Regions from separate parts of the Homo sapiens genome. Here region 2 is linked to region 1. Evidence: fine-mapped expression QTL. A gene starts in region 1. The other region holds a variant in brackets. All regions are shown on one strand. Distances are from middle to middle.

Evidence for each region. PIP is the estimated chance that this variant, and not a neighbour inherited with it, causes the effect. A credible set is the group of variants that fine-mapping cannot tell apart.
Region 2: its variant is the best candidate, but not a certain one, in a credible set for the expression of LGR6 in whole blood (INTERVAL, PIP 0.60).

Annotation. Positions count from the first base shown.
Region 1 is chr1:202,190,922-202,196,429 of GRCh38, forward strand. LGR6 (leucine rich repeat containing G protein-coupled receptor 6) reads left to right here and starts at 2,878. Exons shown (of 18, transcript NM_001017403.2): 1 at 2,878-3,280. The coding sequence starts at 3,069. RefSeq lists enhancers at 1,464-2,267, 1,962-2,011.
Region 2 is chr1:202,260,271-202,265,270 of GRCh38, forward strand. The region is part of intron 4 of LGR6 (leucine rich repeat containing G protein-coupled receptor 6); the gene reads left to right. Among named protein-coding and RNA genes, the nearest start is that of LGR6, 69 kb to the left of the region's middle. RefSeq lists an enhancer at 3,750-4,250. The variant A/G (reference allele first, on the strand shown) is at 2,400.

The DNA of each region.
Region 1 (5,508 bases):
AACAAGTGAACAAAGGTCTCTGGTTTTCCTAGGCAGAGGACCCTGCGGCCTTCCGCAGTGTTTGTGTCCCTGGGTACTTGAGATTAGGGAGTGGTGATGACTCTTAACGAGCATGCTGCCTTCAAGCCTCTGTTTAACAAAGCACATCTTGCACCGCCCTTAATCCATTTAACCCTGAGTGGACACAGCACATGTTTCAGAGAGCACAGGGTTGGGGGTAAGGTCACAGATCAACAGGATCCCAAGGCAGAAGAATTTTTCTTAGTACAGAACAAAATGAAAAGTCTCCCATGTCTACCTCTTTCTACACAGACACGGCAACCATCCGATTTCTCAATCTTTTCCCCACCTTTCCCGCCTTTCTATTCCACATAGCCGCCATTGTCATCCTGGCCCGTTCTCAATGAGCTGTTGGGCACACCTCCCGGACGGGGCGGCTGGCCGGGCAGAGGGGCTCCTCACTTTCCAGTAGGGGCGGCCGGGCAGAGGCGCCCCTCACCTCCCGGACGGGGCGGCTGGCCAGGCGGGGGGCTGACCCCCCCACCTCCCTCCCGGATGGGGCGGCTGGCCGGGCAGAGGGGCTCCTCACTTCCCAGTAGGGGCGGCCGGGCAGAGGCGCCCCTCACCTCCCGAGCGGCTGGCCGGGCGGGGGGCTGATTCCCCCACCTCCCTTCCGGACGGGGCGGCTGGCCAGGCGGGGAGCTGACCCCCCCATCTCCCTCCCGGACGGGGTGGCTGCCGGGCGGAGACGCTCCTCACTTCCCAGACGGGGTGGCTGCCGGGCGGAGGGGCTCCTCACTTCTCAGACGGGGCGGCTGCTGGGCGGAGGGGCTCCTCACTTCTCAGACAGGGCGGTTGCCAGGCAGAGGGTCTCCTCACTTCTCAGACGGGGCGGCCGGGGAGAGACGCTCTTCACATCCCGGACGGGGCGACAGGGCAGAGGCGCTCCCCACATCTCAGACGATGGGCAGCCGGGCAGAGACGCTCCTCACTTCCTAGATGGGATGGCGGCCGGGAAGAGGTGCTCCTCACTTCCTAGATGGGATGGCGGCTGGGCAGAGACGCTCCTCACTTTCCAGACTGGGCAGCCAGGCAGAGGGGCTCCTCACATCCCAGACGATGGGCGGCCAGGCAGAGACGCTCCTCACTTCCCAGACGGGGTGGCGGCCGGGCAGAGGCTGCAATCTCGGCACTTTGGGAGGCCAAGGCAGGCTGCTGGGAGGTGGATGTTGTAGCGAGCCGAGATCACGCCACTGCACTCCAGCCTGGGCACCATTGAGCACTGAGTGAAGGAGACTCCGTCTGCAATCCCGGCACCTCGGGAGGCCGAGGCTGGCGGATCACTCGCAGTTAGGAGCTGGAGACCAGCCTGGCCAACACAGCGAAACCCCGTCTCCACCCAAAAAATACGAAAACCAGTCAGGCGTGGCGGCATGCGCCTGCAATTGCAGGCACTCGGCAGGCTGAGGCAGGAGAATCAGGCAGGGAGGTTGCAGTGAGCCGAGATGGCAGCAGTACAGTCCAGCTTCGGCTCGGCATCAGAGGGAGACCGTGGAAAGAGGGGAGAGGGAGAGGGAGAGCGAGAGCGGAGGCTCGTCTTCTACTTTCAGCGCCATGGCACCAACTGGAGGCCTAGGGTCAAGGTCTGCTCATTTCTTGGTCCAGCTATGCAGCCCCTCTAGCCCTGGGAGGTTATTGGGAGAGTGGAGAGGTGTTGATGAGAGGATCCTGGCATGTGGAAAGACAGGGTGGAAGAAATCCTGGATGCCTCTGAGGTCCCAGGTTTCTAGTATACCCTCTGGCTGGACCATGGGGAGATAGGGCAAAAAAAGGAAGGAGGGGGGCCCACAGCCTGCTCTAGCTCTGCGCGGGGGCTTGGCTCAGCATGGGAGAGACCAGAGAGAGCAAGAGGCTGCATGAAGGAAGCACAGCCAGCTCACTATGGTCTAAGGAGAGAACAGGGATTGACCTCAGTTTTAACCACCATGCCCTTTGCTCTCCAGGGCTCTGGGGCCGGCCCAGGTCAGCCACTTGGTGGGATTCCAGCCTCAGGGTGGCTGAGCTGCAGGTGCAGCACCCGGCCTCCAGGTGGCACCAATCCGCTTACTTTGAGGTGGGCTCTGACAACCAGCTGAGCTGCCCACAGTCCCTCAGACTCCCGAGGTCCTGGGAGCAGGGATCAAGGTGGTCCCCAGGCCGTAAACCTGACAGAGGCTGCAGGAGTGCATTTCCACCCAGGGTGCACTCAGCGGGTGTAACTCCACACCCGTTTCTTTGGAGTCAAGGCCCGGCCTCTCAGTGAGGAGACTGCTCCTGGTTGCCCACCGTCGGGTCATCCCAGCCTGCAGTGGAACCCTCCGCAGCCTGGCCTCTTCCAGGGTAGCCCCTCACTCCCCTCTCTCCTGTCCTAGCAGACAGGCCAGGGAGGGTGGACGAGTTCCAGCTCTGGGGATGTCCCATCAGCTGTGTCACCTTGAACAAATCATTTTGCCTCTTGGGTCTCAGTTTCCTGCAGTGTGAAACGTGGTGGAGGCATGAGGGGCAATGGGAGCCCCAAGGCCTCTTTCAGAGACCTCCTCTGGGTCCCATGTGACCTCGTGGCTGTCCCCAAAGGCAAGAGGGTCCCCAGCCCTGCGGCCAAGGCCCTGGGACACCCTATCCAAACAAATGCAGGTCTCTGACGGGCTGAGCTTTGCTCGCTTGGGTTTCTTTGCTTTCTTCCTTTTTTTTTTTTCTTTCCTGGATGAAATTCCTGCCAGCTCCGAAGGAAGGAGGGAAGAGGAGCGAGCCGCAGTGTAGAAAGTTTCCTTGACTCCTCCTCCGGCTGGGTCTCCCTCCCTTGCCAAGCCCAGCCTGTGAAACTGAATAACGAAGATCACTCAACAATGCCTGCCCCTCTCTGACTGCACCGTCCCGGCGCTCCCACCGCCGCCGCCGCCGCCCAATAGAGCCCCTGGGGCGGTCCCCACCGACGGTGCAGCCCGCCGGGACCGGGAGGAAGCAGCTGCGGCCATCGCGCCGTGCGTCCGCGCCCGGCCGCCAGGTGCCCCAGTAGCCCGACCGCCGAGATGCCCAGCCCGCCGGGGCTCCGGGCGCTATGGCTTTGCGCCGCGCTGTGCGCTTCCCGGAGGGCCGGCGGCGCCCCCCAGCCCGGCCCGGGGCCCACCGCCTGCCCGGCCCCCTGCCACTGCCAGGAGGACGGCATCATGCTGTCTGCCGACTGCTCTGAGCTCGGGCTGTCCGCCGTTCCGGGGGACCTGGACCCCCTGACGGCTTACCTGTGAGTACTGCCCGCCTGTCCCCGCCTGGTCCTGCGGGCTGCTGGCTAGCGCCCAGTCCCGGCCTCAGCAGGGCACCTGCTTGCTTGGTGCCCTGGGGCATGGGCATCCCGGAGAGGGTTTGCCCCCTTCCAAGTTGACCGTTGCGGGACTGGGGAGGGGAGAAGAGTCTGAGACTAAATACCAGGCGAGCAGGGAGACCGGGCTTCCCTGACTTGGCTTCCCCATTGGCCTCCGTGCTTGTGGGCTGACTATGGGAGCCCAGGCTTGGCGAGGTGGGTTCTGGACCCTGAGCGGGAGGGCGCGGGGCTGGCTGCTCCATCTCCTGTTGCTGCATTCTCTTCTAGCAGAGCAGTGCCCGGGATGGTGGCTGAGGGTAAAGCTGACAGAACTGGAGGTGGAGGTGAGGGGAGCGTGCCCCAGTAGGGTGGAAATAATGTCTGTTCTTCTGCCATGGTGAGGACAACAGGGCTGTCACACTGAGGCTGGGTGGCCTTCGTGGGGGCGGGGGGGGCGGGTTTCCTAGAAGCTGGGAGGGGGGCCTTATCCACTCTTGTCTCCTCAGAAAGGGACTCTGCCAGCACCATCTCCCTTCACTGGGGCCTCCTGGCTCCCCCAGGGGCCTCCCTAAAGTCATGTCCCAAGAGGCTGTGTTGGAGACACTAATTTGTGGGCAGGCGCCGAGGCTGAAAACCAGAGAACCATTTTTAGCGTCTGAGTTGGGGTGAGATGGCGCGTGAAGGGGACCCTACTGGGGGCAGCTGTCCTGTCTGTCTGGCTCATGGGAGCTTCCCCTCAGAGCTGGAGGGCTGGGGGCTCTGGCTGCTCACCACCTGGGCAGGAGGAGGGTGAGAGAGCACATTCCAGGCCACCCACCTGCACCCCCAGCCCCGCTCTGGGGCAAGGAAACCTCCTCCAGCCCAGCTCTGCAGGCTCTATCAACTTCCTCAGAGGAGCTGGGAGCAGGTGGGAAAGCCTGGTGGGGCCTTCTGCTGAGGGCTAGGATCCCAGAGTTCCTTCTGGCCTGAGAGAGGCTCCTTATGGCTTTGGGGTTCCAGCACATGGGAGCTTAGAGGAAGAGGAGGCTGGGTGAATCTTTATAGGGGCCTAGCAAGAATTTGTGGAACTAAAGATGCTCAGTGTTGGGAGTGTCCTGGTGGGAGGTAGAGGGTCCCAGAGGGCAACTCTTCATGGGGCTCCTCTCCAAATGTCCCTGTCCCCAGGTTGGGATGTCCCCCTCCACTCCAAAAGGCACAGGCTGTGGGCCAGGTAAGGGAGTGGGAAGAGAAAAATAATGTCCATCTAGAAGGACAAATGGAATCCTTCACAGTGCAGTAGGTGACGGCAGAGGCAATCATGGGAATAAAGGTACCAACTGCACAGAGCCTGGGCGCTCAGCATCTGGCAAAGCAGGGCAGGCTCCGGCCCCACCCTACACACAGGCCAGCCCCTCTTTCAGCAGTTTTCTATCCTGGGAGTATGTGACATTGGTTCATTTGAAGACAGGGTCCTGTGGCTAAAGAGTTTAGATGTGACTTCTGTGGAGCCTTTCTCTGGGTGAGCTGAAGGAAGGTCCCTTGCCTGGGTTGAAGGGGCAGGGGAGATAAGGCCTTCCAGAGCTTCCTTTCCCAGCATTAAGTCTTCCTAGACTGGTTAATGACCCTTTTTCTAGAAGGACTTGGGGAAGGAGGTACACTGTCACCTTTGGAATTCAAGCATCCTACCATCCATGCTGGCAGAAGTTTTTCCCACTAGCTTGCCACAATTCCCTCGGAGCTGTGAAGTCTGCATTTGGGTTCAGTGGAGGTGGGGTTTTCTGAGCTGGTCTGTGTCTTCCTGGGGATTGAGAAAGCCCCTCTCTCTCAAGACTCAGGGGATGCTTCTGAGAGTTGTGGAGAGAAGAGAGGGAGTGGGAGCTATAAAGAGTATGATGGGTCCTGAGGCAATATGGGGAATTTAGCAGTGGGGTCTGGAATATTGGAAGGAGGTGGCAGAGGACCGTGTCCCCTGCCCTGGGCTGGGGAGGGGTCCCATCTGGATGGTGCATGAAGGATTCCTACAGTTGTCCTGAGGGTGTCTCAGAGGAGGAATTTTCTTTCTTTGCCCTCTCTGGAGAACAGCTCTACCAGAAAGGCACCTGAAGGTGGGGTTGAGAGCTGGCATGCAGAAGAGCCAGGGTGGGGAAGTCTTGGGGCTCCTTTCTCTTTTCAGCGATGTTAGGAGATGTCCA
Region 2 (5,000 bases), 69 kb after region 1:
TCAGGTGATCCGCCCGTCTCAGCCTACCAAAGTGTTAGGATTACAGGTGTGAGCCACCGCTCCTGGACTATTTTATTTTTTCAGACAGAGTCTCGCTCTGTCGCCCAGGCTGTAGTGCAGTGGCACAATCTTGGCTCCCTGCAGCCTCTGCCTCCCGGGCTCAAGTGATTTTCCTGCCTCAGCCTCCCAAGTAGCTAGGACTACAGGCATGTGTCTCCATGCCCAGCTAATTTTTGTATTTTTAGTAGAGAAAGGGTTTCACCATGTTGGCCAGGCTGGTCTCGAACTCCTGACATCCGCCTGTCTTGGCTTCCCAAAGTGTCGGGAATGAGCCACCGTGCTCTGCCAAATTCCCCATTCTTGAGTTCTTCATTTAAAAATTATCTCTCTTGATTGCCTGTAGTATATTTTCAAGTAGTTTTTCCCCCAAGAACAACAGATGGCAACTGTATTTCTGATCTTTTATATAGTTGAGAATATATTTTTTTGTGGCCAACTAACTAATATATTTTTTTGTGGCCAATATAAAATTATTGGATCACAATCTATTTTTCTCAGAATCCTGTAGATAAGGCTCCATTTCCCCCTGACATGCAGTGTGCCAGGAAATTCTGAGGTCAGCCTTATCATTTTATTCTTTCAAGGAGAGCATATTTTTTCTTTATGAATGCTTACAAGATTTTTTTTCTTTATCCTTACAACTGAAATGTTTGCCAGAATGTGTTGAGGTATTCTTTCCACTTAGTTTGCTTGGGATACAATAAACATCTTAAATCTACACTATTCTTTCAGCTCTAATGTTTTCTTTTTATTATTATTATTATTATTATACTTTAAGTTTTAGGGTACATGTGCACAATGTGCAGCTTAGTTACATATGTATACATGTGCCATGCTGGTGTGCTACACCCATTAACTTGTCATTTAGCATTAGGTATATCTCCTAATGCTAACTCTCCCCCCTCCCCCCACCCCACAACAGTCCCCAGAGTGTGATGTTCCCCTTCCTGTGTCCATGTGTTCTCAGTGTTCAATTCCCATCCATGAGTAAGAACATGTGGTGTTTGGTTTTTTGTCCTTGTGATAGTTTACTGAGAATGATGATTTCCAATTTCATCCATGTCCCTACAAAGGACATGAACTCATCATTTTTTATGGCTGCATAGTATTCCATGGCGTGTATGTGCCACATTTTCTTAATCCAGTCTATCATTGTTGGACATTTGGGTTGGTTCCAAGTCTGTGCTATTGTGAATAGTGCCGCAATAAACATACGTGTGCATGTGTCTTTATAACAGCATGATTTATAGTCCTTTGGGTATATACCCAGTAACGGGATGGCTGGGTCAAATGGTATTTCTAGTTCTAGATCCCTGAGGAATCACCACACTGACTTCCACAATGGTTGAACTAGTTTACAGTCCCACCAACAGTGTAAAAGTATTCCTCTTTCTCCACATCCTCTCCAACACCTGTTGTTTCCTGACTTTTTAATGATTGCCATTCTAACTGGTGTGAGATAGTATCTCATTGTGGTTTTGATTTGCATTTCTCTGATGGCCAGTGATGATGAGCATTTTTTCATGTGTCTTTTGGCTGCATAAATGTCTTCTTTTGAGAAGTGTCTGTTCATATCCTTTGCCTACTTTTTGATGGGGTTGTTTGTTTTTTTCTTGTAAATTTGTTTGAGTTCATTGTAAATTCTGGATATTAGCCCTTTGTCAGGTGAGTAGGTTGCGAAAATTTTCTCCCATTATGTAGGTTGCCTGTTCACTCTGATGGTAGTTTCTTTTGCTGTGCAGAAGCTCTTTAGTTTAATTAGATCCCGTTTGTCAATTTTGGCTTTTGTTGCCATTGCTTTTGGTGTTTTAGACATGAAGTCCTTGCCCATGCCTATGTCCTGAATGGTAATGCCTAGGTTTTCTTCTAGGGTTTTTATGGTTTTAGGTCTAACATTTAAGTCTTTAATCCATCTTGAATTAATTTTTGTATAAGGTGTAAGGAAGGGATCCAGTTTCAGCTTTCTACATATGGCTAGCCCATATGTTTTCCCAGCATCATTTATTAAATAGAGAATCCTTTCCCCATTGCTTGTTTTTCTCAGGTTTGTCAAAGATCAGATAGTTGTAGATATGTGGCATTATTTCTGAGGGCTCTGTTCTGTTCCATTGATCTATATCTCTGTTTTGGTACCAGTACCATGCTGTTTTGGTTACTGTAGCCTTGTAGTATAGTTTGAAGTCAGGTAGCATGATGCCTCCAGCTTTGTTCTTTTGGCTTAGGATTGACTTGGCAATGCGGGCTCTTTTTTGGTTCCGTATGTAATGTTTTCTTTCAGTTACAGCTATCATGTGCTTCTGCTCCATTCACTCTGGGTTTAATCCTCTGGAATACCTATG[A/G]TTCTCAAATTCAAATTCAGTTCTCGTTTCTATCTATCTCATATTTATTTCCATAATCTTCGCCCCTTTGTCCTTTTATTCTGACTTCAAGGAGAGTGTCTCATGTTTATTCTCCCCATTGCTAATTCAGTTTTTTGCTGGGCCAGGTCTACTCATTATCACCTACAATGCAAATTTGAATTTTGCTTTTTTAATTTACTTCCCCTGCAGTCTTCCCATATCTCACCTAGTTCCATTTACACTTCAATTTGTCTTTGAAACTTGCCTTTTATTTTATTTTATTTTATTTTATTTTATTTTATTTTATTTTATGCTGTTGTTCTTCTGTCTTAGCTTTTTTTCTTTTCATGGATTTTTGTTCCTGTTTCAGAGAGGTCATGATTTCTTGTACCTTACTGAGGGTGTCAAATAACTTCTACTACACCCTCAATAAATTATTTTCAGAGTTATGATCATCTTTTTTTCTTTTCTGAGACAGGGTCTCACTCTGTTGCCCAGGCTGGAGTGCAGTTGTACGATCTTGGCGCACTGCAACCTCCGCCTCCCGGGTTCAAGCAATTCTCCTGCCTCAGCCTGCTGAGTAGCTGGGACTACAGGCTCATACCCCAATGCCCAGCTAAATTTTGTATTTTTAGTAGAGACGGGGGTTTCACCATGTTGGCCAGGCTGGTCTCGAACTCCTGACCTCAGGTGATCCTCCTGCCTCAGCCTCCCAAAATGCTGGGATTACCCACATGAGCCACCGCGCCCGGCCAGCATACATCTTTTTGTTTGTTTGTTTTTTCTCTATATATCTTCATAGGTGTTTTAGTGAGAAGGTAGCTAAGTTTTCCTCCATTTTAACTGGAAACAACTTGAGTGTGTTTGATTTGTTCCTTCATTTCCTCCCTAGGCTAGAGGAGAGGGATTATGGCTTCAGCACGGGGGTGTGGGTGTGGTGGGTACTTGTGGACCAATCAGTAAGGACTTGGAAGATGCTGAGTATAGGAGGGAACAGCACCATGTGAGGTTAGGTCAGAAGGCTCTAGAAAGAGGAGTTTTAAGCAGAGCTTTGAAGAGAGGATGGAGAAACATCTTTCAAAGAGGGGCATCAACCTATACAAAGATCCAAAGATGAATAAACTATGTACTGTGGGACAAAGAGGTAAGGCAAGAGGCACATTTGCATATGAAATAGAGAACTGGGGGAGATCTTCTGAGAAATTATGCTGGTAAGACAGTCATTTCAGGGAAGGGATCTTGAAGCCCAAGCCAAAGAGTTTGGGGTTGACTAGAAGCCATAGATAATTCTGAGCAAGAGAAAAACAAGATTCCAACCGTGGGGATGATTGTGTAGTCTGTGTGAGTGGATGGACGGATGGATGAATGGAGAAATTGATGGATGGAGGGATGTGGGGCCAGGAAATAGGGAGGCTGGGGAGGGGAGGGTTGAAACTATACAGGTATAACCTCTCCAGTTCTCATACTGGTCACAGAGAGCCTGGGAGCTCTTGGGAATGAGGGAGAAAATAGATTGTGGGAAGGACTGGAACCCTGTGGGAAGCCATGGTTGATATGGACTTTTCCCATTTCTTCTCTCCCTTCTCCTATGGTACTTTTAGAAGTGTTAATATGTGCCTGAATTTTCCCTGGTGCCTATTACTACAAAGTCTGCTAGGACAGCTTTTAAGTATCTTTAAAACTCTGGGATATCACTTCTATTCCCTAAGCCTCTGACATCACTGCCCCCTTTCTGGAGAAGCAAGTCGGGAAGATCTCCATCGGCCTCTTCCTCTACCAACCACAGCCACCCTTTGCCAGGGCAGGCAGCCAGGCCTCAAGCAACCACAGGACCCGGCTCCCAAGCACATCTCAGACAGCCCACGAAGGTCGCCAGAAACCAGCCTGATGTCTGCAATTCAATGGCTGGAGGCTGGGGGATGGATGAGATGGCTTTTTGTAGTTCCCACCCCAGGATTCCGGGATTGTCACCCACAAAGGTGGCCTTCTGCCCAGATCTGTAGGTCTGTGTCTTTGGGGGAAGCTCCTAAAGGCTACACACAGAGGCACTTCCCTGTCTCCCTCCTGGAGGGTGGGTAATTATTTTTATATATTGCTGCTGAATAAAATACAAGGAATAGCTTGGAGGAATGCTCAGGTATCATCCTTTGATGTATACAAAGGAAGCACTTTCTCTGCCCGCCCCCGCCACCACCCCAGGGGTTCTTGCACACCCATCAATGCTCCTGACAGATGGAAGGAAAGGAGAGTTGAGGCATTAGCATAGCCAGGAGAACCAGTTGGAATTGCCTTCGTTTTAATATCCCACCTTTGATCTATTGAGAGGCTGACAGTGAGGGGAAGGATCTTATTAGATGGCATAAATCAAAGCTGATGAAATCACTTTCCTCCAACAAGCTTTTCCCCTGGGTGAGGAGAGAGAGAAAAGTGCTGCTCTAGCTCCCACCTCCCCTCTCTCCTCAATTGTAAGTGGGTATGGAAAGGTTAATTCAAGGCTCCATGCACCATCACCCCCACCCCACCTCTGCAGGGAAGTGGAGTTCTCACTCCAGCTTCTGGTGGCTCAGTTGACCTCCTCTGCTCCCCATGCTCTCTGTCACC